7 separate regions of the Homo sapiens genome follow, and regions 1, 2, 3, 4, 6 and 7 are each reported to be linked to region 5. Evidence: microRNA targets listed by miRTarBase, many of them from high-throughput screens and not tested one by one. Region 5 holds a microRNA gene; each other region holds the end of a gene's coding sequence.

Region 1 (4,078 bases), not on the chromosome of region 5:
GCATCATTTAGTTCCCTCTATAATTCTTACGTGGAATCAGAAATCCTTATTAATGCCCTTACTCTATTTGAGATTATCTATGACAATCTCAGAGCAGAAGTGTTTAACTATAGAGAATTCAATAAAGGTTCCCTTTTTTACTTATGCACTACATCTGGAGTGTGTGTTAAGAAAATTAGAGCCTTAGCAAATCACCATGACCTCTTAGTGAAAGTGAAAGTTATAAAACTAGTGAACAAATTCTGATTGGTTATGTACCGTCAAAAGACTTGAAGAAATTTCATGATTTTGCAGTGTGGAAGCGTTGAAAATTGAAAGTTACTGCTTTTCCACTTGCTCATATAGTAAAGGGATCCTTTCAGCTGCCAGTGTTGAATAATGTATCATCCAGAGTGATGTTATCTGTGACAGTCACCAGCTTTAAGCTGAACCATTTTATGAATACCAAATAAATAGACCTCTTGTACTGAAAACATATTTGTGACTTTAATCGTGCTGCTTGGATAGAAATATTTTTACTGGTTCTTCTGAATTGACAGTAAACCTGTCCATTATGAATGGCCTACTGTTCTATTATTTGTTTTGACTTGAATTTATCCACCAAAGACTTCATTTGTGTATCATCAATAAAGTTGTATGTTTCAACTGACAAAAAGTCGTTCTAATGCTTGAATTTAAAACCCAGATGGAGAGATAAGGTACATAAATACAAAAGTATATATACAAAGATCTATGAAAAATAATAATAATAAATAAATACAAAAGGATTACTAACAGTACCTGGGCATATGCTCTTTGTCAAATATACACTATCTGTTTAAATGAAGCAGAGGTTGCTGAGAAAGCTTCAAGGAGGAAGGGCGCATTTAAGCTGAACCCTGAAGGACAACATAGAAGGGCATTCCAGGAGGGGGAAATGCTTTGGAGAAAGGCATGCAAGTGAGAAATCTGTGCCTGTGATAGGAAGGTAGCCAATTTGCTTGGAATGGAAGCCATGGGAAGAGGAATGATGAGAGATAAATGTGAAAATTCAGAGTGAGGAAAGTTTGAGGAAGATCCTGAACCCCAAGCCAAAATATTGAAATAATATCTTGTCATATTATGCAAATTGCTGAACATTTTTGACTAAAGGAAAAATAATCTGGTGGCAATATTAAAGATGGATTGGAGCTATGTTGGAGACTGGACATTTGTTAGAAAGTTATAATAAGCCAAGCAAGAGATGATGAGGGGTGAAGTGGGGTGGTGACTAAGGGAACTGTTAGTGTATGATGATAATAAGAGACAAAACAAAACAAGAAGGACGAAGATCTGCTGCCTGACGCTTGTCTGTGGATCAACAAAGCTGGAGGATTGTATAACCTCATGCAGGTCCTGACAGGGAAGAGCCCTATTTGGGGGGCAACTGTGGAGACGGCACAATGACAAAGTGAGTCACCATTTGGGATGAGAAAAAAGCAGTGTGGCAGAAAGAATGACTCTTGGCACAGAGCAGTGGTTGGCTTCCTAGGGTTAGAGGTTTAGGTCTGCCATCTTTTAGAAGAGGGGCAGTGGTGAGGCCTTGATGGGAGTCCCCATCCCCACTCCCAAGTTCACTTATGAACAGGTATGCTTTCCTCCCTGGCCCACTGAAGCAATTAGAAAGTGGGAGGGTCCGAGAGATTTTTCCAAACCCAGCCTGCTTTCCTGACACCCTTTATGGTTAACAACAGTATATTGTATACTTAAAATTTTCAGAAAGAGTAGATGTTAAGTGTTCTAACCACAAAAGATAACTATATGGGGGCAAATGCATATGTTAATTAGCTTGTTTTAGCCATTCCACAATGTATACATATATCAAAATATCATGTTTACCCCTAAATATATACAATTCTTATTCGTCTATTAAAAATACATTTTTTAAAAACTGATATACTTCTATATTGGCATGAAAAGACATTAACTACGTGTAAGGGCCTGTCGCATCAGTCAAAAAGTCCACACAATTAAAACTGGGTGAAAATTCCTTCATATGTTTATTATATACATCCCTGCGTATTTTTTTCATAAAATTGGAATCATATTGTATGATAATGGTTCTCAATGTGTAGTCCATGGACTACTGCAGGTCCCTGAAACAGTAAGGTCAAAACTATTTTCAAAACAATAGTAACATGTTATTTGCTGTTTTCACCGAGTTGACATTTGCACTGATGGTGCAAAAGCATTGGTGGGTAAAACTGCTGGTGCCTTAGCATGGATTAAGGCAGTGTCCCCATACTATACTAGTAGTGATTGCATTCTTTAGAACCACACGCTCTAATTTTTTTAAATCCAAATTTATTTAAAAATGTATTTAATATAGTCCTTATTTATAAAAATTATATATGATAAAATCTCAATGATTGAGTGCAAGTCTTTTTAATATTCCGTGTGATGAAATAGGAAGTACGCACAAAGCATTTCTGCCACATAGCTTAGGACAATGGTTGTCTCTAAGGTAAATATTTGCATAATCATTTTAGTTGTGCACTGAATTAGCTGCTTTTTTCATGGAACATTAGTTTTACTTGAAGAATGACTGGCAGACAAACTATGGTTTTTCAGACTTCGGTATTTAGCAGAGATTTTCTTGAAAATGAATGAAGTGAGACTTCAAGAAAAACAACTGACAGGATTTGTCACCAGCAATAAAATTTGAACTTTTATGCAAAATTAGAAATTTGTAAAACTTGTATCCACAAATTCAAGCTTGACAGCTTCTCTTGAAGATTTTTCTGAAGAGATCACTGGTGATAATAATGGAGGTGATGGCCTTTTTTCTTTTTCTCCTAGGAGAAAATTGATAGAAGACCCTAGGGCCTAATGTTCTTACTCAGTTTTACTGTAATCATTGTAACCCATATGACATCGAATCTATGGCTATTTAATAAATAATACAATTGCTGTGGTAACAACATGACCCTGAGTGAGGTTAGACCCAAGAATTTTTGAACCATTACTAAGGATAACCTGAAAATATGTCAGTCCTGGAAAAGTATTTCTGGGGTAAGATAGAGGTAGTATTTGAGTTCGTATATGGAAGATGGATGCATCAGAACCTCCTGGCTTGATCCTCACTATTCAGGTAGTCTAACCAGCTTTATCTGCTCTGATTAACAGTGGAAACTTCCATAATCTTCAGGTGAAACCTATTCCCATACAGAGATGTGTGGTCTGGCCTAACGAATAAGCTACAAATCACACAATAGGGAAATGCTTTATTTCCTAAGGTCTGAATTTTTGTGCCTTAAATCATATCACATGTGAAAGTACGAGCGTAGTTCAGGTGTGGCTAAATCCTAAAAGAGTAGCTCTTTGAAAGATTTAACTTCGTAAAATAATAACAATAGGTACCAGGAATTGAGCATCAGCTATATAGTATTCTATTATTCCTGAAATGTGACTGTTGAAACATTCCTTAGGTATTCTGTACTATAGTATTTACCTTTTATATTGTGTGTCCAGGGCCTATATGAAGGGGTACAGTTCTCACAACTGTTTGCACTGAATAGTCCTGCTTTCCTTGCTTCAATTTGTTAGTCTGGGTAAACAGTCAGGTCAAGAAACATTCATGTTCTCTCTTTTTAAGAATGTGGCCCAATAAATGCAAGGACTGAGGATACAAGGCTGTCATTTTAGTGGCAGAGCACAATGATAAATTGATACAAACTCCTACTCTTGGAGTTCCTGGAGCTGCATTTGTTTCCACCCTTTATCAGGCCAGGTTATTGAATTTTTCCCTTGTAAGATCTATCACAATATATTTCCTTAAATTATCTTTTTGTGCTTAAGGAAAAGGCCTCATACTAAGAGTAAGATGAGAGATGGGGCAGTAAGCAATAGAGTCTCAAGAAATCATGGGATATTTGGGTTGAGGTGGGCAAAATGCAAATGAGACTTCCTTCCCAATCTGGGGTTGAAAACAGTCTACAATTAATTGAGAGCTTTCCCTGTGACAAAAGTTCTATGTGACAAGGTAATTGCTCCTATAGAACATTTCACGGGGAAGAGGAATTGAGTGGGATCAGGTATTTGTATCTAGGGACACTGAACA
Region 2 (4,078 bases), not on the chromosome of region 5:
AGGTTGCAGTAAGCCCAGATTGTGCCACTGCACTCCAGCCTGGGTGACAGTGAGACCCTGTCAAGGTTGGGGGTGGGGAAAGGACAGAAATTCTATTTAAGGATTCGTTGTTCAATTTCTTTGACCCTTCTTCTCTATCTGGTAACTTTTTGAAAAACATAATTTATCCTTCTTCATTTTGCTCATTATCATGTTTAAGACAGATCAATAAGATGGTTAAACCCTGTGTTCACTCTCAAACCACTTTGCAATACTGTCTTTTCCCTGTTGATCACAATTAGGGGTGGGGAAGGGTGACAGATAACAAATTCTGTGTGGAATAGCCAGACAGGGTAATCTTCCTACAGTGGTTTTAGAAATCCATGTGTACTTTTCCTTTTATCAGTGAATGAAGAATGGCTGGAAGGGGAGTGCAAAGGGAAGGTGGGCATTTTCCCCAAAGTTTTTGTTGAAGACTGCGCAACTACAGATTTGGAAAGCACTCGGAGAGAAGTCTAGGATGTTTCACAAACTACAAAGCTGAAGAAAATGAAGCCCTATTACTTGTTTGTAAGATTTAGCACCCTTCTGCTGTATACTGTACTGAGACATTACAGTTTGGAAGTGTTAACTATTTATTCCCTGTTAAAATTTAACCTACTAGACAATGATGTGAGTACCCAGGATGATTTCCTGGGGCACAGTGGGTGAGGAGATGGGGACAGGTGAATGGAGGAGTTAGGGGAGAGGAAAAGTGGATGGAAGTGTCTGGAAAGGGCACGAGAGAGTCTTCCAGGTACTGATCCTGTTTCTTGCTCTGAGTGCTAGCTAGCCAGCTGTGTTCACACTGTAAACATTCATCAAGCTGTACATTTGGTGCACTTTTCTGTGTCATACCACAATAAAAAAAAACCTAGCATCTTACAAAAACAAGACACCCAAGTCCAGGCCCAAGGAGTAAGTACAAATATTCCTGTTTCTGAACCATTACTGTAATTGGCTCTTAAGGCTTGAAGTAACCTTATAGGTTACTCATAAGGCATATACAAATAAACTTGTTTGTTTTCTTTTTTCATTATGTCTTGTTGCTTAAACAGAACCTAGACTGAGTTAGGTTCTCATGGACTACAACACTCAATTCCACAGAGAATTAATAGAATTACATACCTTTGTACATTCTCAGAGAGGAACATGTGTTAAGAACTCAATACTGAATATATATCAATCGCCAACATTTAAGTGATGAAAAGCAGCGGTGTTCATGAAGCTAGTTCGTAAGTAGTATCTTGTTAGCTGACACTTCGTAATACAGTTATGCACTGCTTCACAATGGAGACATGATCTGAGAAACGTGTTGTGCAAACTCATCTAGAGTGCACTTACACAAGACTAGATGGTATAGCCTACTACACAGCTAGGTTACCAGGTATAGCCTACTACTCCTAGGCTACAAACCTGTACAGCATGTTACTATGTTGAATTCTGCAGGCAACTATACCACAATGGTAAGTAAGTATCATCAGTGTAAACAAACATAGAGAAGGTCAGCAAAAATGTATTATAATCTTATGGGAGCATCATTGTATATGCAGTCCATTGTTGACCAAAACATTGTTATATGGTAAATGACTGCATATACTATGCTATACTAATATACATAACAGAATGCTATGGATTTGGCTAACCCAATTGTCCAATTTTTCAGGATTAACTTGGGTGAAGGATTCTGTAACTAACTAAACTATTAGACCTTAAGGCCTGGCCTTAGTTCCTCTCCCTACCCACTTCTTGTTGTAGCGTATGTGGAGCTTTGCTAACAATTTTTCAAGTGTGCAGGCGCCTGTGAAAAGCAGAATAAGGAAGTGAACTGCAGACTGAATCAACATGCAGGTGAAAGGATAGCCGGTCAGGGTGAGCACACAGGCATTAAGGTTAGCTATACCACTGGCTTCCAGCACACAGTTGGAAGACCCAGCAAGCTACCAATCACTGGAAACTTTGGACACAACTCAAAGAAAAGAAACCCCAAAGCTAAGAAGAAGAATTAATTAATGTTGCTGCTAATCAGATTCAGTGAATTTTTACAGGCCAAAAGGATAAACTCTCTGAACTGCCTCAGTAACAGCTACAATAGGAATAAAAATAAAAATGATGGGCTCTTAATTCCTTAACATAAGGCATTCTTTTATTAAATAAAAGAATTTTGATAATCGATTTCTTACTACTCATGCCTTTCCATTACAATTAATTATAATTTCCGTAATTCATTGGTTTGGAATGCTACTAAAAGCAAAATTAACCCTGAAAAATATTCAAGTTCTGACCATTTATGCCTTTCCCTGGATGACCTGTGAGTAGTTGAAATTCTTGCCTTTTAAGTTGGATTTTCTTCAATACTTCTTTTATATCTTTTAGGATAGAAAAGAAAGAATCGATACACAGATCTGGTTGGAGAGAACATGGTTTAATTAAAGGCAAAGCTGATTTTCAGCAGCTGCAGGTCTTGCACAGACAAAAACAAAAAACAAAACCCAGAAAACAAAACAAAAAACCACAAAAGAAAGTTTACTACACAAAACCAGTTTCTGATAAAGATTCTCCTCCCCCTCATTACTCCACAGTGAGGATGATAAGGCGAGGAATCCCGCCCCAAGAGTCAGAAAACATTCCAAACACCAAATTCTCATGCAGAATGGGGCTTTAGATAGGAGCTGGGTATTACTGGGAGTGAGATGGTAAACCTGGTTAGCTTGTCTAGGGCGCAAGAATCAGTGACAGTTCAAACACTGGAATGTTGCAGCTGCCTGAATGCAGAGCTCAAACACACAAACTGGGTAAAGGTAGTAGGAAAAAGGCTTGGGAAGAGGAGAGAAAGGTGGACACAGGGAAGGGGCTGAAGAGAAGCACAAAAGGTTTCATATTGCCATTGGGTAGGGGGCTTCACCTTTTCAGACCTTTCAAAAAAACAAAACCCAAACACCATGTCAAACTAAAAGAGCAATAATGTAAGCATACGGGGCGGGGGGGGCTCCAACCACTCTCTCTGAAGAGCAATGAGCGTTATCTCACCCCTTTTCATTGCTGGGGTTGCCCAGACTGCAGTGACAACTGGGGCTCCTGGATGTGCTTTGCTCTACAGCTGTCTTCCAGCTCTTAAGTTCCACACTAACTCCATACACTCGCACACACAACCCCTCCCCTCTGGGACAGCAGATGGGCACGTGTGTGTACACAAACATACAGACACACAAAGGAGAGACCTCCCAGAAAATAAACCCTACCACTAGCACAGCAATTGAACAATTAGATTGTTTCCATAATTTCCCCTTAAAATATTACTTTTCCAGGAAATGACTAACAGAAATGCTGTCCTTCTGTTTCTACACAAGAACATTTTCAGTCCTCTTTCCTCCTAATAAATATCATACAAAGAGTTTATTTTCCTTTCTTTCGTCTCTTCCAAAATGGACGACGTCGTGTTTTCTTCTGTGCCTGATGGGCACATGTCCGTGCTGCCTTGAATTTCACTCTGAAAGTGGAGGCTGGGAGACTGCAGCTGGGCAGGGGCCTGGGCCCTCTGTGGGCTACGCAGATACTGCTGCTTCCTTCCTCTTCAGACTGTCTTTTGGGCCCCAACTGCTGGACCCCATGCTGTTGCTTCTTGGGGAGATGTGATGTTGCACACATTAGGAATAAAAACAATTACTAGCATACAGCATTGGGTAAAAGAAGGGATGGAGATGGGGCAGGAGGGTGGGAAGTAGAATGGGGGCACAAAAACCAACCAAAGAAAAAATAACCACACTGAAAGCTTCTACCTATTAGAACGTGTCAGGCTGTGAATGGACTAGCCTGCCTTCTGTGAGACTGCTTGCTGTGCGACTGTAAAATGTACAGGAATCAAAAACGTAATTTGAAATCCTACAGCAGTCTACCTGCTAGTCCAGCCCAGCACCACCACCCACACTGTATCCTCGATTGGGGCTCGAGCACCTACAGAGTGAAGGGCATTCCCTGCTGGAGTCTCCTGGCCAGAGGAAGGCCTACCAGAGCCTTCTGACAGGCCTTGAACTCTCCCTTATGGAACATTTCCACTGGC
Region 3 (4,078 bases), not on the chromosome of region 5:
GATTGCCCCGATTACCTCCTCTCCACAACCAACCACTGGGTCTTCAGTGTCTATCTATTAAGCATAAGACGCTAGGCCACAGAACACTACTTACAATGCCATCCTGTTTCAGTTTTCAGAAACTTGATATGTAATCATATTAGGTCAATTGAGAGACATCAACATGTTACTAGTTATTATAACTGGGTGGCAAATGTGGAAGTGATTTTTAGTCCTCTTGTTTACACCTGTTCTCTAAATTCTTTACAAAATTTAGACAAGGAAAAAAAGCATTTAAAATGTTAATATCAGCTAGGCACGGTGGCTCACGCCTGTAGTCCCAGCACTTTGGGAGGCCAAGGCAGGCCAATCACCTGAGGTCAAGAGTTCAAGACCAGCCTGGCCAACATGGAGAAACCCCATCTTTACCACAAATACAAAAATTAGCCCAGTATGGTGGCATGCACCTGTAGTCTCAGATACTTAGGAGGCTGATGTAGTAGAATCACTTGAACCTGGGAGGCAGAGGTTGCAGTGAGCCGAAATCGGGCCACTGCACTCCAGCTTGGGTGACAGAGCAAGATTCCCTCTCAAAAAAAAAAAAAAAAATACCCAAAAAAAATCATATTAAATCTCAAACTCTGTGATCCCCAAGTCAACTTAAGCCTAGCCTACTTCCCTGTACCCCAGTGGCCCCTAAACTACAACCTCAGCTCTGTTATTACACCCACAGCTCATCCAGGGCTAACACCAAAGCAGGAATTGAGAAGGAAGAAGCTCTGGAGAAAAGGGGTGGAGGGTTTAAAGAGATTCCCCAAGTCGGCAGTCTCAGCACCACGTCACTTATGGACCCTGAAGGCCTGAGTTTGGAGCCCTCTGTAGGATGGGACCTACAACATCCTCCCCACCCCAAGGTAACACCCTTGGAAAAATCACTATCCTTATCCCTACCCTGGTCTTACCTCCTCTTCCTACTGCCCACTCCTAATTATGGCAGCAGTGCTAAGGGAAGCCCTCTCCCTTGGCACCCCACATTTGTGGATAAGGTTTCAAAGGCTAAGCTTTTCTGGAATTCAGCACATTTTGTCTTTCCCAGCTCAGGGGAAAGAAAACTGTCCAGTCATGGTCACTGCTGTCTCCAGCTTTGGCAATACAACCTACCCAGCATAATGTGAACCTGGAATCAATTCCCTGATGCTTGAAGGTTTCCTTCAGAATGCATCATCGTAAACAGACCCAGGAGGCTCGAGGTAACTCCACAAGGGATTTCAAAGTTACTCCACCTGGAGCCTCAGCCATTCTCTGAATCACAGCCCCATTCTCTGAAAATGCAGAAACTTACCTTGCCAGCACTTTTGTCTACATCCAGGGAGAGAGTCCCAACTGGATTATCCCCAAGCCTTCCTAGACCCTGCAGGGAAGAACCATTAGAGGTGAACAGCCCCCGGCTCTCCCTGACCTCCATGCCTGAGAGAGTGAGCAGCCCACCAGGAGCCAGGCGGCAGCAGTCTCGGGCAGGAACTCCATAAAGGGATGGAGTTTCTTTGCCAGGACTCAGAGAACAAGGCAGACTAATCCTACTCCTGCTTGTCTCATGAGCACCATGGAAAAGCCAATGAGGTGACAAGTCCTGTATTAGCACCATTCGTAGCACTACTCTCCCATTCTGGGACTGGGGGGTGGAGGGTGATCCCCAGAGTGCTTGTAAATCTATTGTCTAAACTGCGACATCTTGGAGAGCTAAAGGGGACACTATTTAGTTAAGCCAGGACAATAGGTATTAAACAGGACTATCCCAGGCAAACCAGGATGTGTGGACACCCTAGAGAACATCTTCTACCCCTGTCGCCAGGTTAGCGGCCTGCGGCTAGAGCAGTTAGTGCCCTGCCCTCCCCCAGATTGTATGCCACTGAAGACAGTCTACTTCTCTAATCAAGCCAGGACCTCACTCAACAAGCTCCCTTGGCATCCCAGGAAAAGAAGAGGAAACTATCACAGGCACCACAAAAATGTGGACAGGGCCCTTATTTGTCTGGTTCAACACAGTATATACCCTGGGCCAAGAATAGTACTTAGCAGGTAGTATATGCTCAATAAATATTTGTTGAATGAGTGAGTGAACGCCCAAAGTTTCTAACATCATCGAGAGAACGCTAGGAAAACAGACTTGGCAATCTAGTAACACATAAAAGGGTTTGAACTCTAACCTTATAAAAATCTAAGGCATTGTGGTGGGGCATGGTGGCTCACGCCTGTAATCCCAGCACTTTGGGAGGCTGAGGTGGGTGGATCATGAGGTCAGGAGATTGAGACCATCCTGGCTAACACAGTGAAACCCTGTCTCTACTAAAAATACAAAAAATTAGCTGGGTATGGTGGTGGGCGCCTGTAGTCCCAGCTACTCGGGAGGCTGAGGCAGGAGAATGGTGTGAACCCGGGAGGCGGAGCTTGCAGTGAGCTGAGATCGCGCCACTGCACTCCAGCCTGGGCGACAGAGCGAGACTCCGTCTAAAAAAAAAAAAAAAATCTAAGGCATTGTATAAACTGCTATGCCTTTCCCTTTGGGGGAGTTTATAAATATGAAATGTTCACAGCTTTAAAATGCCAGATTGAACTGAACCTGTGAACTTCTACAATAAACTAATGGAAAACAAATTATTTTTAAGCCACTGCTGAACTTCAAATAAACTGGAACTATTTCCTGCAATATCTCTAGTACAAACTCATTCAAAACCTTGTTAGCAAAATTGGGACTGAATCTAGCAAATGCTTGGTATACACATCAGGATTCCTCTAACCCCAGTCTCACTGTGTGTAGGTTCCCTGAGAAACAGGTGCCTGGAGAGAACTAGGTTTGCAGGAGATTTAGTGGGGGAAATGGCTAGGAAGCATAAAGGAGACGGAACAGGAGAAGGCAAGGCGGGCCTTCACACCACCGTGAAAGATGGACACGTATGAAAACAGAGGGGGAAGGAAGGAGGACTGGATAGAACCTCAGACGCAGCACAGTTCTAAGGAAGTTTCAGCCAGGTTGATGGGGGGTCCTGGAGCTAAAGTTGTCCAGTAGAGAAGTCCCACATTCCAAGGAATGGGCCAGCACTGGCACCCCACCATGTTCAGTCTCTGGCTGGAAGAAAGTATGGCCTTAGCATAAACAGGGTGGTGGAACAAGAGGGGTGGCAGCTGGGCTCTTACTCCACAGTGCTCCCGCGGCAGGAGTTCTAAGCAGCACATGTTCAGGGCTACTGCCCACTATGTTTGAAACAATATTGTCCCTGGAATGACCCTTTTCAGTGAATCCAAATAGGCTCTGTGAAATTATGCCAGCTGTCAGCTGAATACTCACAGTAGATAACATATAAGCTAGCCCACCACCACCATATTTTTCTCCCAAGTGCTGGAACTTTTCATCCCTATCAGCCAAGATAAAATTTTCTCATAGAACACAATCAGTGACAAACTTTTATTCAGAAAATAAAAGTATTATTTCATTTTATTATTCCCAAAGAATCAAGCCCATCATGAGTAGCCCACATGGTTGCTGTTCAAAGGTACTGAAAAGGGAGGCATTTGGTCACCATTACCCATCAAGGAACTCTTTACAAGGATAGGTTCCAAGTCCTTCGTGCTGCTCTTGGTCATTCAGTGACTGCAGTTTTGGCCCAGAAGCCATCCAAGATGAGCAAGTGCTGAGCCATCCTTAACTCATACCTAGATGAAACAACTTGCGCAGAAACGCTGGTCCTCCCCAGTAACCCCTGTAAGAAATAACACAAAAAAATGTACCTGCAGCAAGAGAGATGGGGCGACTTCAGTCAGGAGGATGCTGAAAGGGAAGCCAGGCTGCTCACAGAGCATGTTCATCAGCACGTAAAGCAAGATTGTCTAGTGAGTTGGAGAGATCCCATGACTAGGAGGGGACAACCTACTTCCATTCCTAAGCTTTGACAAAGACTTGCTGTGTGAGCCTGGATGTGCTAACTCAATTTGGCAAATGTGTCTAAAGCCTCTACTACATGCAAACTGCTACTCTTTCTGCTTTCATTACCTCATAATTAACTGTAGGATTTTGCAATCTTGGCCCTATTGATATGTTGGA
Region 4 (4,078 bases), not on the chromosome of region 5:
GCGGTGAGCCAAGATCATGCCACTGCACTCCAGCCTGGGCAACAAGAGCAAAATTCCGTCTTAAAAAAAAAAAAAAAAAGATTTCAGAGAGGACTGTGCGGCCTCGGCTCGTGGGTCTCTGAGACCTGAAAATTGAGAGCATTTTCGCACCCCAGAGGCTGCTACTGGCAACTCTGCGGCCTTCACCATGCCACAGAACGAATATATTGAATTACACTGTAAACGCTATGGATATCGTTTGGATTACCATGAGAAAAAGAGAAAGAAGGAAAGTCGAGAGGCTACGAACGTTCAAAGAAGGCAAAGAAAATGATGGTCTGAAGGCTAAGCTTTACCATAAACCGTGCCATGCTGAGAAAATACAAATGAAAAAGACTATCAAGATGCATGAAAAGAGAAACACCAAACACAAGAATAATGAAAAGACTCCACGGGGATCAGTACCTGCCTATCTGCTGGACAGAGAGGCACAATCTCGAGCTACAGTACTTTCCAATATGATTAAACAGAAACGAAAAGAGAAGGTGGGAAAATGGGAAGTCCCTCTGCCTGAAGTATGTGCCCAAGGAGAAACAAAAGTATTAAAAGTTATTCGAACAGGAAAGAGAAAGAAGAAGGCATGGAAGAGGATGGTTACTAAAGTCTGCTTTGTTGGAGATGGCTTTATAAGAAAACCACCTAAATATGAAAGACTCATCAGGCCAATGGGCTTGCATTTCAAGAAAGCCCATGTAACACATCCTGAACTGAAAGCCACCTTTTGCTTACCAATACTTGGTGTAAAGAAGAATCCCTCATTCCCACTGTATACAACTTTGGGTGTTATTACCAAAGGTACTGTCATTGAGGTAAATGTGAGCAAACTGGGACTTGTGACGCAAAGAGGCAAAGTTATTTGGGGAAAATATGCCCAGGTTACCAACAATCCTGAAAATGATGGATGCATAAATGCAGTCTTACTGGTTTGACAGCAATTTAATATATAATTATTGAGGACTACAAACCAATTGAAAAAACTGCCATTACTGTGATGTTTCTGAATACCACCAAACAGCCTTATATGTCTGCAATCATCAAGAGATTTATTAAATTGCAAACATTAAAATGGTTAAAAAAAGATTTCAGAAAGTAAGAAGAGAGTAGTCAATTTTAAAAGTGTTTGCAAATGGAAGGGAGCAAGTTCCCTGCCCCACTACCATATTTCACAATTCCATCTTCTCCTGTGTATCTGGAGGATTTTTACAGAACCAAAAGGCCACCATCTGTAGGAAGTTCTAAGGGTTCATTTACATAATGTATCACTAGAGTCTTTTCTCCTTGGGTGAGGGCAGCAGGTTTTTCAGGTCAGAAACTACTCCACACCCCTAAACTCTCTGCATTCCCAGGATGTTAAGTCACTGAGGAAGCTGGGGAGAATATACAGAAGGAAAATTTTGCCTGGTCCAGTACTGAGGCACACTTTTTGCCCTGTGTAGCGTCATTTTATCTCCAATTGACTTCCTTAGATCAGTATGTGTCTATATGTTTCCATAGCACCCACTCCTTAAGTAGCTGATTCACATGGCTTTTATGGACCAAATTATTGTTCCATGCTGCTCTTGATTTTACTTGAGGGTACAGTGACTATTGGGGAGAAATTCTTGCTTGAATTCCAAAGAAGTAATGTGTTCTTCTGGAGGTCTGATAGATTAGTTCTTTCAAGCCTCACCTTGAATAACATAGTTAGAAGACAGCAGGTGAGCTTTATATGACAATAACTAAGTCTCTTCATCATGAAAAATGGAATGGGGGAGTTGGGGTTGAAGAAAGGAGCTCTCCACTGTTCCAAAGCAAGTCCATACAGTCTCTCCCAAATTAAGTTATATAATCCTTTTAGTCCCAAACAGTGGCTGATGAAGGGAAAACCATGCTAGCCATGCCAAGAAATAAGATACTTTGGTTAACAGCCCTGCTACTTAGAAGAGAGAACTCCCTCAACATAATGTCCTGACATTGGATAAGAGGAGAGGAAATGACTAAAGATAAATTCTTAGCATGCTACCAAGAGTAAAATTGGATGAGGACAGGAAGCCCTAGGTCAGATTGTTCACAATTTCTTGAAGTGTTGTGGTGGCCACGACTAGGAGTTCTTTTAATTTTCCTGGTCTGTGAGGGGCAAGCATTAGTTAGGTAAATGCTGGGATATTTGGTCCCAATAGGCAGTGGCCATAGTAACTTCAATCCCTTGGTTACCTCAGAGGTAGCTGGCTGACATTCCTATCAAAATACCCAACTGATATGAGATGTAAACATTGAGATATAGGAGAAAAGGAGACATGCATTCGTCCACTGGGGGTATAGGAACGAACAGAGGGTTGATAAACATATGTTCCTTGTTATAAAGTAAAATCCTGGCCGCGTGAGGTGGCTCATGCCTGTAATCCCAGTGCTTTGGGAGACCGAGGCGGGTGGATCACTTGAGGTCAGGAGTTCGAGACCAGCCTGGCCAACATGGTGAAACCCCATCTCTACTAAAAATACAAAAATTAGCCATGCATGGTGGCGGGCGCCTGTAATCCCAGCTACTCGGGAGGCTGAGGCAGGAGAACTGCTTGAACCCAGGAGGCAGAGGCTGCAGTGAGCCAAGATCACACCACTGCACTTCAGCCTAGAAAACAGAGCGAGACTCCATCTCAAAAAAGAAAAAAAAAAAAAGTAAACTCCTGTAGGCAGAAACCAGTACTGATGATGATTTAATGTGATCTTGTTTCCCTCCTCTGCCTTCACTCTACCTTGGAGTGTTAGTCACCCATCCCAATCGCAAACAACATGAAGGTGATGTCTCAGCCATTATTACTTTCTTCCCTACACACATACACATACACACACACACACACACACACACACACACACACATTAATGAAATACTCAGGACAACAGCAGACACAAAGCAGTCTTCATTTCTTCCACACATCGGAAACATTTTCAATTACAGTTCAGCTTCTCTGAGGTCCACATCAAGTAGTAAAATACCAAGAGCACAGAAAAGCTGGGTTGGAGGAAATCTCTGCTAATGAGGCACTAAGTGAGAGGCTTCACTTAACAATTCCAATAGACAAGCTGGAGGCCCATGCAGGTCCCTGAGAAAAAGAGTCATTTTGGCTTATGCCCTGAAGGAATTCTACTCTGCACTTTCTCCTTAGAGTGTGCCTATGAAGTGCCACTGTAAAGAGAGGTCCTTGCTGAATGGCCACTAGTAAAATCCTAACAGAGAGCTAATCTGCTTGGGGAGCAGCTTTTTTAATAGTGGTGATTTTCTTCTCAGCCAGAGCTTCTCACTGGAATTAAAAAGACCCCAGCCACACTGACAGTTGCAGGTTCCACATTAGTCAGACTGTTTCCTGGGAGGTACTCTTAGCTGGTAAGCTGTCATATCCTCTGATCAGTCAGGATATATTCTAGCGGGATTCTGGGCCTTCAGCTCAGCCCAGGAAAGCTCAGAAATGCATCAAGCAAATGAGCAGAGCTAGAAGGTCACTTTAGAGAGCCTAAAGTGTTTGAAGACAAGTTATTCCAATTGACTTGGGTAAGAAGGGTGTGAATGGTATTTCTGACCCTTTCAACTATATAGTCGATACCCCCTGTTTCCAAACATAGTGGTAACTCTTAAGAAAATAAAACCTATTTGGGAGTTGCTCTTTCTTCTGATAGGCTTAACAGAAAAGTCAAGAAAATGTACTGATGGGTATCTCACCCATGAACCTCATCCTTTCGTTCAATTTCATGGTTACTCTTGGCAACTCCCAACTCTTCCTAAAATACCCAGAAAATAGAATCAGACAACACTTTGCCTTGCTTCAGTCTCAAAGGGTGGCTCTGAGTTCTCAACCCTGGTCCGAGGGTGCTGGTGACAGCAGACACAATGGAGGTAGTCTACTACATTATGGGTGAAGAGTGAGCGCAATGGATGCAAGTACTGGAAGAAAAGGAGCATGAAGCCAATGGAAATCAGATAAGCAATAATGAGCTGCAAGGCAATCAAGGAATGACAGTAATTCAGTAACACTTTCACTCCAAAGAACTTAAAAACCAAGACCAT
Region 5 (4,078 bases):
CCTCCCGGTGCACCGCGCTAGCATCTTGTTCCCAGGAAGGAAACATACTATTTCCCTGGAGGGTTGTCCTTGAGTATCTCAACGGGTCAAGCTGTTCCTAAATTATTCCGAGAAGCTTTAATTTCAGACCTAGATGAAAGCTGAGATTGTCAAAGGACTCTCACGGCACGCCGCACCGAAGTTCTCCCATTGCGAAGCCCGGGTTGTTTTATTGCAAAACTGCCGCGCATAGAATTTCTTTCATAGCAGGAAAATTTGTAATGGGCATCAAACTGGATGATTATTTTCCAAAGAAATAGGAAGTACATAGTCTTAAAAATCTAGAAACATCACGGATCAATAGCCACTCGATTTCATCTAGGCAACCGAATTACTAAATTGAGTGTTTCCCTTTTTAAGCAGTATTTTAACCTCTCTCATATCACGTATTTCATTTCTATTTAGAAAGCAATTTTAAACTGATCAAGCTTTCTGAAGGACAAGTTTAGATGATCCTAAACAGGTAGGATTAGGCTGAGGGGATTAGGTTTGCTCCTCTGAGGTAGTATGAATTCTAAAGGAATCAGGCAGGACGATTTTGCAGCCCTGGACCATAGCTGCTTTGTGGATTACGCAAGATGTGGATGCAGGAGATCAGCGCAATTGGATGAATACTGGAAGGAAAAAGCAAGGCCGCCATGATAACGTGTAATGCTTTAAATTCATTTCTGCTTCCAACGACTGCTTTTAATTGGCACAAGAGGAATATTCCCAATCCTTAAATTTTGTAATTCGAGCAGCCCCTATTTTCCAGTGTGCTTTACCCACCCACTCCGAAATTGGATAAAATTAAATATAAACCAAAGTAATCGATGAATGTGAAAGACCCGACTTGCAGAGTTCTAAAATTCGAGGACAGATAAAATCCGCCCTGAGGCAGGGGGTGAGAAGGCAGCTCTCTGAGGATATTGCACCTGGCCGCTTTATTTCATGAATTTTATGATACATCTACATCCCGTGTAAAAAAAATAACTTAATGAACACATGTCTTTTAGGTCATTGTCAATGCATGGCCCATTGTTATACCTGGATCAAAATCGGTGTTGCTGTCTCTATTGTCCAACCTGAATTATTTTGTCTGTTACTAATTTTAACACCCTTTATGTTTGTGAATTTATAGACAAACTCAAGCAAATGCATAGAAATTTCTTTTGAGAAATAGCCAGCCAGGGTGGCTACGAATTGGTTGATTTTCCGTCTCTCTCTCTCTCTCTCTCCCTTGCCATTTTGATTCATTACTTAGGGAATTTAAATTTGTATTGTTTACATTTAATACTTTCAACATCTAAGAACGATGAAATATGCTAAGAAATTTAGATTTTTGAATATATCAATACTGACTCATCCAACCTTCGATTTCTAAGGCGAATTTTCACTGCATAAGATTTAGTAAACCGCCCTGCCTCTTTCCGTCGCGTGAGCTATGAGGATGTGGCTGAGGTCGGTTTTTCCGCAGTGCGGGTTTCAGGCCTCCTGGCCCTCCAGTGCCTCCCGCCGGCTGGGATGCGCCGAGCAGGCTCCTGCGCAGCAGAGCGGTCTGCAGAGCTCAGCCCTCTGTACCCGTCTACTAAGGCTGCCGGGCTGCAAGGCCTGGCCGAAGGTGGCAAGCTGCATGGGCTCCTGCCCTGTTTCACCTGGTGGGTCCCCGACCCACCCCTTCCTAGTTAAGCCTCGAGGCCCACACTTGAGTCCATTGCACGTCCCTTTGGTGACCAAGTAAGCACTAAAATCCGCGGCTGAGGACCTTATGTTTCTGTTTTAAGGAAGATGATTTAAGAAAGAAAAGGATAATAATAAAGCCTTCATTCTCCTCAATTTCCTTCTTGCAATCCTGCGATTTAGGTTTCAGCCTAAATAAAGTGGAAATGGTTTCCCCATACACTTACAATGTATGTATGTGTGCATTCCTACGTGAAGACCAAAAAGTGTCAGGCAAGGGTAGCAACCAGCTTGAGGGAACGATTTCAGTAAAATATTGTTTTGCTGTATGTGACCTTTTTCTCTTTTTAAATGTTATTTTTCAAATTACCTAATATCCTACTCTTCTTTTGAGTAGGGACGGGACGGTCCTATTGCTTTTCCAGTTTGATTACGGAGAGAGAAAAGGGCCACGGTCAGCACCGCGGACAGCGCCAGGCAGGGAGGGCGCGGCTACTTTGGTGCATCCTCTTAGCTCCTCTCCTTTGTTCCCAACCCCTGCAGGCCAAGGCAGAACAAAGACATCAAGGCTCGCTTTTTCGGCCTGGGTTTTTCTTTGGCTCCAAAGTCGTGGTGCGGAACTGCTACCTCAACATAGTCCACCTCACTGGCTTCCAAACAAATTAATTTACCGAGTCCTTCTAAAGTTTCTGACCTGGTCCTTTCACCTTATCCCACTCCTTTGACCGATTTGGACATTGCGACAATGCCAAAACAAGAGAGTTATCTTGGCGTCTTAAAGCCAGGCATGAACGCCTCGAGATTGGGAAGAAAAAGGGAGAAGTCAAGGGGAAATGCGGGCGGCAAGTGTTCTTCAGATCTTTCCAAAGTTTGGACGTTTCATTTGCTGTTTCTTGCGCAGTGTGGTCAGGACGCTATTTAATGTTACACCTCTCTCTGCTGTTTTGTTTTCCCAGCTTGGCCCAGGACTGCAGACAATCACACTACCTGTTCTTGAAAGAACTAGTGCTTTCTAAATGATTTAACTCTCTGGAATATTTGCACAGGCGGGAACTACTGCTCTCCAGACAGCTGTCAATGAAGCTTCCCTAAAATTCTCCTCGGAGATTTGCCTGCGGATTTCCGCGGCTGTAATGGAAAAGTAGGAGCCTTTCCCTTTCGAACACTAGGTTGCTTCCAGAATCAGTCCTGGGTGGGGGTGGGGGGCATTTATGCGGCAAGAGATGGGTTCCTTTTACTACCCCCTAAATTCCCTGCAATTGCTTTTTCCCCTTTCTGACCCTGAGATGCTTTGGTGTCCTTCAAGTGCAGCCGTAGGCTCCGCTCTTGGCATTCACCGCGTGCCTTAATTGTATGACATTAAATCAAGGTCCGCTGTGAACACGGAGAGCAGAGCCTCTAATCTTGATCCGGAAAGTATAAGACCCACTGCGATTACCACTCTTCTCTCCCTGCCCATCCCCCTCTCTCCGCTCTGAGTCTCTACCCCTAGAGTCATAACTCATAAGCCCAGCTCCTGTCTCTGCTCATCTCTGACACATCTGCCAGAGCCGCTGTTAATTAGTCTGTTCCGTGGAAGTGTAGACGGTGCGTGTGCCTGCGTATACATATGCATATATCTCCATGCCATTTACAGCACACGCCTAAAAACATACATAAGCCTATAAATCTAGTTTTCAAATGACGGCGTGGATCCAAGTTAATTACCCCTCTGGTACAGATCTAATTTTGTAATCGTGTTATTTTACTGAATGCAATTAACCCAGTTGGTTCGCCCTGAATCCTTTCTAAGGCACTTGTAAGGAATGGCAGGTTTTTAAGGACCACGCTATTGCATGTTCTCCGTCATAACCATTGCCAATCATTTTCTGCTGTCAGGGATGAAATCTAGCATATAAAAGAGAAAACCATGCGTGTGTGCCTGTAAGATAAACACACAGATATGCCTGGGCTCTGTGTCCTTTGATAACGTTACCGCGGGTTTGGTTGGGAGATTTTGGGAAAAGAGAGTCCAAGGGCGGGCTGGGTCATCTTTCTTTGTAATGCGGAAAAATTAACTCATCCGCACCTGCCTAGTCCCGAGAGAGCTGGGCGGCCCATCTGGTCTGGCTACAAGTTTGCTGCGGAGAGAAAAGCCTGCTCACTAAAGCTTCCCCACTGCCCAGGAGCGCGGACCTCGGGTCTGGGCCCGGAAGAGGGATTAGGCTCAGGGCAGCGCAGCCGACTCGCACTCCTCAGCCAGTGGCCACAGTCTGGGGCTGGAAGCGCCTGGGCCGGGCGGAGGGAGGGCAAGCAGGAGAGAGAAAAGGGTGAGGGAAGTTGACCTCTACGGGCGGAGCCCTCTGCGCAGCGGGCAGGAGGCAGCGGGCGCGACGGCTCT
Region 6 (4,078 bases), not on the chromosome of region 5:
GAGGACAGAGGAGGGGGCAGTGGGTAGGAAGTGAGACACTGGAGGCCAAATGGCTTTGCCTGTTATTTTAGAAGCAGAGTCGCGGGGAGATGGTCTGGTGGATGTGATGTGGGAATATAAGTGGGAGAACACGGGGGATGCCGAGCTGTATGGGCCCTTCACCAGCGCCCAGATGCAGGTGAGCTGCTTTCTCCCTCCTCCTGCCTTGTCCCTGCTTCCCCCACTCCTGTCAGTTGTTCCCCAGCTCTGCCCTCTCCTTGCAGACCTGGGTGAGTGAAGGCTACTTCCCGGACGGTGTTTATTGCCGGAAGCTGGACCCCCCTGGTGGTCAGTTCTACAACTCCAAACGCATTGACTTTGACCTCTACACCTGAGCCTGCTGGGGGCCCAGTTTGGTGGGCCCTTCTTTCCTGGACTTTGTGGAGGAGGCACCAAGTGTCTCAGGCAGCGAGGAAATTGGAGGCCATTTTTCAGTCAATTTCCCTTTCCCAATAAAAGCCTTTAGTTGTGTACTGGGGCCTTGGCTGTGCTGATGGCCAGAAGCCAGGGGCCTTCTCCACAGTCCCTTTGGACTTGTCTTGGTCCCTGAGTACTCCCATGAAGATCCTTCTTGGAGGTGCCTGTCAGGTATCCTGTGGCCTCCCTGCCTGGACTCTGCTTGCCGTGTAAACACCCCCAACTGCGCTGCTCTGTGCTCCTCTCCCAGGTTTCTTGTTCGATTCCTCTTAGGTCTTTGGCTTTCAGGACCTCAGATTCTTTATCCTTGTAGCCACCAGAGGACAGAGCCCCAGAAGTGGATGTTTTAGGCCCAGAAGGACCAGGGCATCGAGAAGACATTGGGACCCTGTTGGGGGTGAGCATGGAACCCTCTTACTCTCGCTTCACCCTCTCAAGCTCCTTAGATGCTGGGCAGAAGTGGGATGAGTGGCCCAAGACCGAGATCCCTAAGGTTCTGAGAGCCAGTGTCTTCCCTAATCTGGCTTTCCTCTATCCTTGCCGTCGTTCCCACAGCCCTTCAGTGAAGTGCAAACTCAGTGGCCAAGTGTGGGCCAAGTGTGCATTGTACTGGCACAGAGAGGGGCAGTGACTCACTGGAGATCACAGGAATCAAAGGGCTGGCCCAGACCCAGTGGGCTCCTTTCCCAGACCTTTCTTGGCACAAAGCCTTTGCTGCCTGGCCTTGGAGGCCCTGCGGCCTACATTCTCTGGACCCCACTATGTGCCTGGCACAGGGCTAGTGCCTTGAGGAAACTGAGGTAGCTGGGTTGGTCCCCTTCCAGGAATTCAGAGTCTGGTGGCAGGGGCATGGGAAATAGACAGATGTAATTCTATAGCCTGGGCCTGGCACCCTCCACCTCCACGCCCCACCAGCATTGCCTTACGCCTCCCTTGCCCCACGTTAGATGGTTTCTTCCGGTTTTGCACTCTGGCTGCCCCTTGGAGTCTCCTGGGGAGCTGTAATATCTCTTTGGAGATTCAGATTGAGCTGGTCTAGGTTGTGGCCCAGGCATTGGGCATTTTGGAAGCCCCCAGGTGTTTTCAGCTTGCAGCCAGGCCGAGAGAGAGCCCCTGAGTCAGATCCCCATGGTTTAGGCACACCTAGCGGGAGGGGTGGCTCCTGGACCCCACCGTGGTTGGAGAGCTGAGCATGTGTGTGGCTTTAGTGGGGTCTGTTAGTTATGGGGGTCTGGGCACTGGAGCTGCAGGACACTTGGGATCCCAGGTCAGAAAGGGCCAGATGAGCAACTAGGAAAGACTTGGGGGCCAGGGCGGAGTGGGGTCACCTGACACTCTTGTGAGGCCCCTTCTAGTGCCTGCTCACACCGGAATTTCATTCACTCCAAGAAGCCATCAGGGGTAAGATACCTTCCTTTAAACGTCACTAAGAAAGAAGAGGCCTGCCGGTGACACAGTAAGATGCCATTGATCTAAAGATGCGTCTTGATTTCAGAAAGGTCCGGAAGTGGAAAGCAGGTTTCAGGGCTGCTGAGGTACAGGGTTCTCCTGTAGGCCCCAGGGATGGTCTCAGGGGTGCTGAGTGCGTGCGTGGTAAATGGATGGAGCCCAGGGGCGCCTCCTGCCAGTGTCCTCCAGGCACTCAAACCTAGCCCTTCTGAAGCCGACCTCACGTGACCTCACAGCCCCTCCTGAAGGCGCCTCACTGATGACGGTGGGTGGAATAACAGCCCCCAGAGATGTCCAGGTTTGGAACCCCAGGACGTGGGAAAGTGTTACCTTGCGTGGCAAAAGGGACCCGGCGCCTGTGCTTCAGTTCAGGATTTCGTGGTGGGGAGATGACCGTGGATGGTTGAGGTGGGCCCTGAGTAATCATGGGGGCCCTTATAAGGGAAGGGGAGTCACGAGGGTCTGCGCATGAAGCAAGGAAGCTTCTGGCTGTGAAGATGGCAAGAAGGCCTGGGGCCAGGCGATGAGGTGGCCCCTGGAGGAGCTGGAAAAGGCATTGGATTCTGCCCCAGAGCCTCCGTGGAGAAACAAAGCCGCACTGACAAGACTTCAGCCTGGTGAAAACCATTTTGGACTCCTGACCTCTAGAACTGTAAGATAATAAATTGGTGTGGTTTTCAACCTCTCAGTTTGTGGTAATTTGTTAACAGCCCCAATAGGAAACAACTACTCATGCATCCAGGGGACACCTCATGAACCACCCGATCTCACTAAGTTCTCCCTTCCTGTGACCACATTGCTATTTCAGGTCCCTGTCAGCACTTATAAATGTGGCTGCCTCTTGCTAGGGTGGCCTTTATAGCACATCTGAAACAGCACTCCTTGGCTTTTTGTTTGTTTTGTTTTTAGAGACAGGGTGTTACTGTCACCCAGTAGGGGTGACAACATCTCTCTACACTGGAGTACAGTGGTGTGATCATAGCTCAATGCAGCCTTGAACTCCTGGGTTCAAGTGATCCTCCCACCTCAGCCTCCTAAGTAGCTGGGTCTACAGGAGTGCACCACTTCACCTGGCTAATTAAGAAACTTTTTTTTGTAGTGGCAGGGTCTTGCTATGTTGCCCAGGCTAGTCTCAAACTCCTGCACTCAACCGATCCTCCCAGATCAGCCTCCCAAAGTGCTGGGGTTACAGGTGTGGGCTACTGTGCCCAGTGTGCTTTTCTTTTTTAGTTGTGTGTGTATATATGCAGTTTATATGTATACAGTTTGTAAGAGATACATATAGATAGATAGATAGATATAAACTTTTTGTTTGAGTAAGTTTTTTTTTTTTTTTTTTTGAGATGGAGTTTCGCTCTTGTTGCCGGGCTGGAGTGCAAATGGCACGATCTCAGCTCACTGCAACCTCTGCCTCCTGGGTTCAAGGGATTGTCCTGCCTCAGTCTCCCGAGTAGCTGGGGCTACAGGCACCTGCCACCACGCTTCAGTACCCTTCAGTGGTTTTTTGTATATTCACAGGGTTGTGCAACCATCACCACAGTCTAATTTTAAAACCTTTTTTTCCTACCATGAAAGAAACCTGACCCATGAGTAGCCCCTTCTCACTACTCCCCACCTTTCCTCACCCCCCAGCCCTGGCAACCACCCATCTACTTCCTGCCTCTAGATTTGCTTCTTCTGGGCATTGAAGATAAATGGAATCATATATGTGGTCTTCTGGGTCTGGCTTCTACTTGGCCCTATGCTTTCAAGTTCAGCCATGTGGATATCTTCATCTATGTTTATTGTTTTTTTTTTTTTGAGACGGAGTCTTGCTCTGTCACCCAGGCTGGAGTGCAGTGGCACGATCTTGGCTCACTGCAACCTCTGCTTGCTGGGTTCAAGCGATTCTGCTTCAGCCTCCCAAGTAGCTGGGATTACAGGCCTGTGCTACCACACCTAGCTAGTTTTTGTATTTTTAGTAGAGACTAGGTCTCACCATGTTGGCCAGGCTGGTCTCAAACCCCTGACCTCAGGTGATCCGCTCCCCTTGGCTTCCCAAAGTGCTGTGATTACAGGCGTGAACCACCGTGCCCAGTCCTTTTGTTTATTGTTGAATAACAGTGTATTGTGTGGATGTACGGTACATTAATACTAATTCAACTTCACCCTTTTTTAAAATTTTTCTTACTAA
Region 7 (4,000 bases), not on the chromosome of region 5:
CTCCTTCCTAGGCCTCCCAAAGCGCTGGGATTACAGGCTCACACCACCACTCCCGGTCCAAACTGATGTGTGTGTGTTTTTTTTTAAGAGACAAAGGTCTCACTATGTTGTCCAGGCTGGTCTTGAACCCCTGGGCTCAAGTGATTCTCCCTCCTCAGCCTCCGAAAATGCTAGGATTACAGATGTGAGCCACCATGCTCGGCCTGATTATTTTTTAATCTCGTTTTCTTAGAAAGTCAGAACCGTCAGTGGCAGATTCCGCACAACACACATTCCAATCTCAGAAGTTTTGTCCTCTCAAATGTTCCAATCCTAGGATCTTAGAAATCAAGTAACTTTCGGAATATCAAAGTTGGAAGCACAGAACATTAGAGGAATGTTAGAAACATACACTTTTAGGACCCTAGAAGTGCAGACTCAGAATCATTCATCTTGAGCGGGCTACTTCACTGTGCCTCAGTTTCCTCATCTGTAAAATAAAGATGATAACAGTACATCTGCGTCATAAGTCATGCAGAAGATTAAACATATGTAAAGCGCTTAAGGCTGCGTCTGGCATCTGAGTGTTAGCTATTGTTACTGCCTTGCCCTCTGAGGCTTCATCTTAGAATCAACTCATCTTTGTCATTTACAAATAAGGAAGGAAGCTCAGAGGCTCTTGGGCCCTGGCAGCCATTCAAAGGGATCCATGGCAGGGCGTGGTGATTCACGCCTCTAATCCCAGCACTTTGGGAGGCCGATGCAGGAGGATCGCTTGAGCCCAGGAATTCAAGACCAGCCTGGGCAACATAGTGAGATCCTGTGTCTGCCAAAAATTTAAAAATTAGCCAGGCGTGATGGTGTGCGCCTGTAGTCCCAGGTACTCGGGAGGCTGAGGTGGGAGGATCGCTTGAGCCCAGGAGTTGGAGGGTGCAGTGAGCCGTGATTGCACCATTGCACTCCAGCCTGGGTGACAGAGCAAGACCCTGTCTCAAAAACAAAACAATCAAATCAAAGGAATCCAGGCCTCATAAAAGCCACTCTGGACTCATAAAGGAAAAAGGCACAGAGAGGGCAGGCGACACACGCATGGTCACACAGCGAAATTCAACTGGATCCTTGCGCAGAGCGTTGGAAAGGTGACAGGCCCTAAAGGTGACAGGCCCTGGATCGCAGCCCCGAGACCTGAGCGCCGAATCACCTGGGCAGGGATTTTGGCGACCACAGCCTATCTGTTTTCTGAGCGTCCGCCAGGGGGCGCCGCGAGCCGCGAAACTGGGCCCGCGTGGGCGGGATGAGTGCGCGGCCAGCGTGTCCCGGGACGCCGTGGGTGTGGCCTGGATGTGAGTGCGCGGGACTCGGCGCGCACGGTGCGCTGCCCAGCTCTGGCCAAGAGTCCCCGGTGCGTGAGCGCGCGCACACTCCTGGCAGCCCGTGTGGGCAAGGTCACCACTTCCCCAACCAGAAACCAGCGTGTTCCTGGTGTTACGCGTCGGGAGTTATGTACCCAGGTTGTGCAAGGGCACGTTGCCGGGCAGGGCGGGAGCTGGGAGAGCACTTCGTGCCCGAATACACACACACACACACACACACACACACACACACACACACCCCGCGCGCGCCCCAGGGCTTGGTTCCCAGGCCCCCGCCGCGGGAGGTGGGAGGAAGGGATGTCCCGGGGGGAGGGCCCCAGAGTCACTTTTCCTCGGAAAATATGCCGTTCTGGCCCCCAGCCCAGGCCTGAGTCACCAGGCCTCGCTGCATTGAGTCACGGACTCCACCCCGCCCCTGAGAGCACGGAAGGGGGCCTCCCCCCACCCCAAATCCTGCCCAGGTCTCTCTTTCCCTGGGGGAGGGCGGGCGATCCCTGTCCCAAGCCAGCCTCACTGCCACATGGGAAGAAGCCTTGGCTTTATTCGCTCTGTGGGGACACTGTTCCGTTCAGAGGCCCCTCCCAGCCATGGGGTGGGGGACAGTGGTGGGCGTGGGAATCCCAGCGAGCATCCTGGAGGGTGCGTCGTCTCCATGTATTTTGCTCTTCCCCATCTTTTCCATGGGGTCCCCTGCCAGGGTCAAGCACTAATATGTGGTGAAGGCAGCAAACAGCGTCGGCGTCCCTTTAGGGGTGGGGAGAGGGCTGTAGCACCAAGAACCCCCTCCCCCGCCCACGACATCCCTGAAAAGGAGACTAAAATAAAGCCCCGGGGCCTTTCTACGTAGGGGCTCCACTTAAATATGGAATGGTGGTAGGCAGAGAGGCGGTGGCCCAGCAATCCTTAAGTCCAGATTACCAGCTGTGGGGAGGCTTCCAGGGGGCCAGGAGCAGGCTGGGCAGTTCCAGCCACAGACACGTGGGTGGAGGACGGAAATATCTCCAAGGGGGCACAGTATCAGAGGAGCAGGATGGAAGGGGCTTTTCTGCCTGCTACGGGATCCTTTTTAAAGAAATGGGTGTGAAGCCGGGCACGGTGGCTCATGCCTGTAATCCCATCACTTTGGGAGGCCAAGGCGAGCAGATCACCTGAGATGCGGAGTTCGAGACCAGCCTGGCCAACATGGTGAAACCCCGTCTCTACTCAAATACAAAAATTAGCTGGGCGTGGTGGCGCGTGCCTGCAGTCCCAGCTACTCAGGAGGCTGAGGCACGAGAATCACTTCAACCCAGGAGGTGGAGGTTGCAGTGAGCTGAGATCTCACCACTGCACTCCAGCCTGGGCGACAGAGCAAGATTCTATCAAAAAAGAAAGAAAGGACAGGACAGGAAAGGGAAGGGGTGTGGACAGAACTGGGGGCAAAAACAAAAAAGAAGGAAGGAAGGAAAGAAAGAAATGGGTATGGGCAGAATTGGGGGCAAAAACAAAAAAGAAGGAAGGAAGGAAAGAAAAGAAGGAAGGAAGGAAGGAAATAAATGGGTGTGGGCAGAATTGGGGGCTTTCCCCGAGCAAGGGAAGGGGCTGCGGAGGGGCCCATCTGAGGAAGCAGTAGGTGTGTCTCCCCTCTGAGCCCCCCATGGTCCCGAGACCTGAGGATGTGATGGAGCCGGTTGAGGGTGTTGCCTGGCTGGGCAGGAGGAAGCGGAGCAGAAGGGGGTCTGTTTATCTGCTAGTCATTTCAGCCACAGGGCTGCTCAGCCAGGGGAGGGGCTGGGGGCCCTGCCAGGAATTAGTGTGTGTTTGCGTGACTGTGTAGGTGCCCTCTCCTGGGAACGTCACCTTCCATGAGGGCAGATGTATTTGTCTATTTTGTTCTCTATGGTAATGCCCAGTGCCTAGAACAGGGCTGGGCACATAGTAGGTGCTCAATAAATATTTGAATGAATGACGGATGGATGGATGCCTGCGTGTGCCAGTGTGTGTGTGATGTGCCTAAGTGAACGTGAGGCTGGAGGTGTGAAGGGCGGACAGAGAAGCCTTGTCCCTCCCGTGGTCCCCTCTAAATGCTTCCACCGGGGTGTCTGGCGGTAGTGAGGAGGGAGACCCCCGGTCCTTACAGCTGGGCAGGGAGGGCAGGCAGGGCGTGTGTGAGCCGGAGCAGGGGTGTGCGTGCAGCCGACTGGAGCTGGGGAGCCACAGCAGGGCCATGGGAGGGGGGCCGGCTCACTCGGCGGAGCCCTTGTGGCGTCGCTTGGAGGGTGGCACCAGGCGACGGGGCAGGTTGGCGGGCAGCCCGTGGCCTTCCAGCTTGGCCTCGATGAGGTGGCTGGCCAGCGCGAACTCCTCATCATCCAGCATGCCGTCGCGGTCCACATCGCTGAGCTTCCAGATGCGCCCCAGCACTGAGTTGGGGAGCTTGGTCCCCACCATCCAGGTCTTGGCCTTGGAGCCGCTCAGCTTGCCGTCGGCAGGCGCCAGGTTGTAGAAGATCTCGTCGTATTTGGACTTGTCCTTGGTCACCACCCACTCGGCCTCGTCGTCCGAGCCCTCCTCGCCGTCCTCCATGGCCTCGTCAGGTCCCCGCTCCACAAACGGGCCCATGTGGGTGCCCTCAAAAGCGCCCCCCTGCACGCCCACCTCGGTGCTCT

What was found. The annotated mature microRNA hsa-miR-124-3p reads UAAGGCACGCGGUGAAUGCCAA and lies in region 5 at 3,025-3,046, opposite strand. An mRNA with a match to its seed (bases 2 to 7 or 8) in the 3' UTR can be bound and repressed. Matches are read on the target gene's strand: a 7mer-m8 pairs with bases 2 to 8, a 7mer-A1 pairs with bases 2 to 7 and ends in A, and an 8mer does both.
Region 1: the mRNA of ARMCX2 is a reported target of hsa-miR-124-3p. The part of its 3' UTR that is shown has no 7-base or 8-base seed match.
Region 2: the mRNA of NCF2 is a reported target of hsa-miR-124-3p. The part of its 3' UTR that is shown has no 7-base or 8-base seed match.
Region 3: the mRNA of SQOR is a reported target of hsa-miR-124-3p. The part of its 3' UTR that is shown has no 7-base or 8-base seed match.
Region 4: the mRNA of XKRX is a reported target of hsa-miR-124-3p. The part of its 3' UTR that is shown has no 7-base or 8-base seed match.
Region 6: the mRNA of CD2BP2 is a reported target of hsa-miR-124-3p. Seed matches in the 3' UTR shown: 7mer-m8 at 1,238-1,244 and 7mer-A1 at 1,375-1,381.
Region 7: miRTarBase lists EHD2 as a target of hsa-miR-124-3p. The part of its 3' UTR that is shown has no 7-base or 8-base seed match.

Annotation. Positions count from the first base shown.
Region 1 is chrX:101,651,858-101,655,935 of GRCh38, reverse strand. It overlaps ARMCX2 (armadillo repeat containing X-linked 2), which reads left to right. Exons shown (of 6, transcript NM_177949.4): 6 at 1-655. The coding sequence ends at 246. Among named protein-coding and RNA genes, the nearest start is that of ARMCX2, 6.0 kb to the left of the region's middle.
Region 2 is chr1:183,552,538-183,556,615 of GRCh38, reverse strand. NCF2 (neutrophil cytosolic factor 2) reads left to right here. Exons shown (of 15, transcript NM_000433.4): 15 at 386-1,054. The coding sequence ends at 498. SMG7 (SMG7 nonsense mediated mRNA decay factor) reads right to left here. Exons shown (of 23, transcript NM_001375584.1): 23 at 2,425-4,078. Among named protein-coding and RNA genes, the nearest start is that of NCF2, 36 kb to the left of the region's middle.
Region 3 is chr15:45,690,632-45,694,709 of GRCh38, reverse strand. It overlaps SQOR (sulfide quinone oxidoreductase), which reads right to left. Exons shown (of 10, transcript NM_021199.4): 10 at 3,429-3,737. The coding sequence ends at 3,680. Among named protein-coding and RNA genes, the nearest start is that of SQOR, 58 kb to the right of the region's middle.
Region 4 is chrX:100,910,524-100,914,601 of GRCh38, forward strand. XKRX (XK related X-linked) reads right to left here. Exons shown (of 3, transcript NM_212559.3): 3 at 2,922-4,078. The coding sequence ends at 3,815. It also overlaps the pseudogene NSA2P3. Among named protein-coding and RNA genes, the nearest start is that of XKRX, 16 kb to the right of the region's middle.
Region 5 is chr8:64,378,178-64,382,255 of GRCh38, reverse strand. MIR124-2 (microRNA 124-2) reads right to left here and starts at 3,107; the gene lies at 2,999-3,107. MIR124-2HG (MIR124-2 host gene) reads right to left here. Exons shown (of 3, transcript NR_109792.1): 2 at 3,767-4,078; 3 at 1-653.
Region 6 is chr16:30,349,281-30,353,358 of GRCh38, reverse strand. CD2BP2 (CD2 cytoplasmic tail binding protein 2) reads left to right here. Exons shown (of 7, transcript NM_006110.3): 6 at 72-178; 7 at 264-2,586. The coding sequence ends at 374. Among named protein-coding and RNA genes, the nearest start is that of CD2BP2, 4.0 kb to the left of the region's middle.
Region 7 is chr19:47,741,008-47,745,007 of GRCh38, reverse strand. EHD2 (EH domain containing 2) reads right to left here. Exons shown (of 6, transcript NM_014601.4): 6 at 1,874-4,000. The coding sequence ends at 3,576. Among named protein-coding and RNA genes, the nearest start is that of NOP53, 2.5 kb to the left of the region's middle. RefSeq lists a silencer at 1,144-1,253.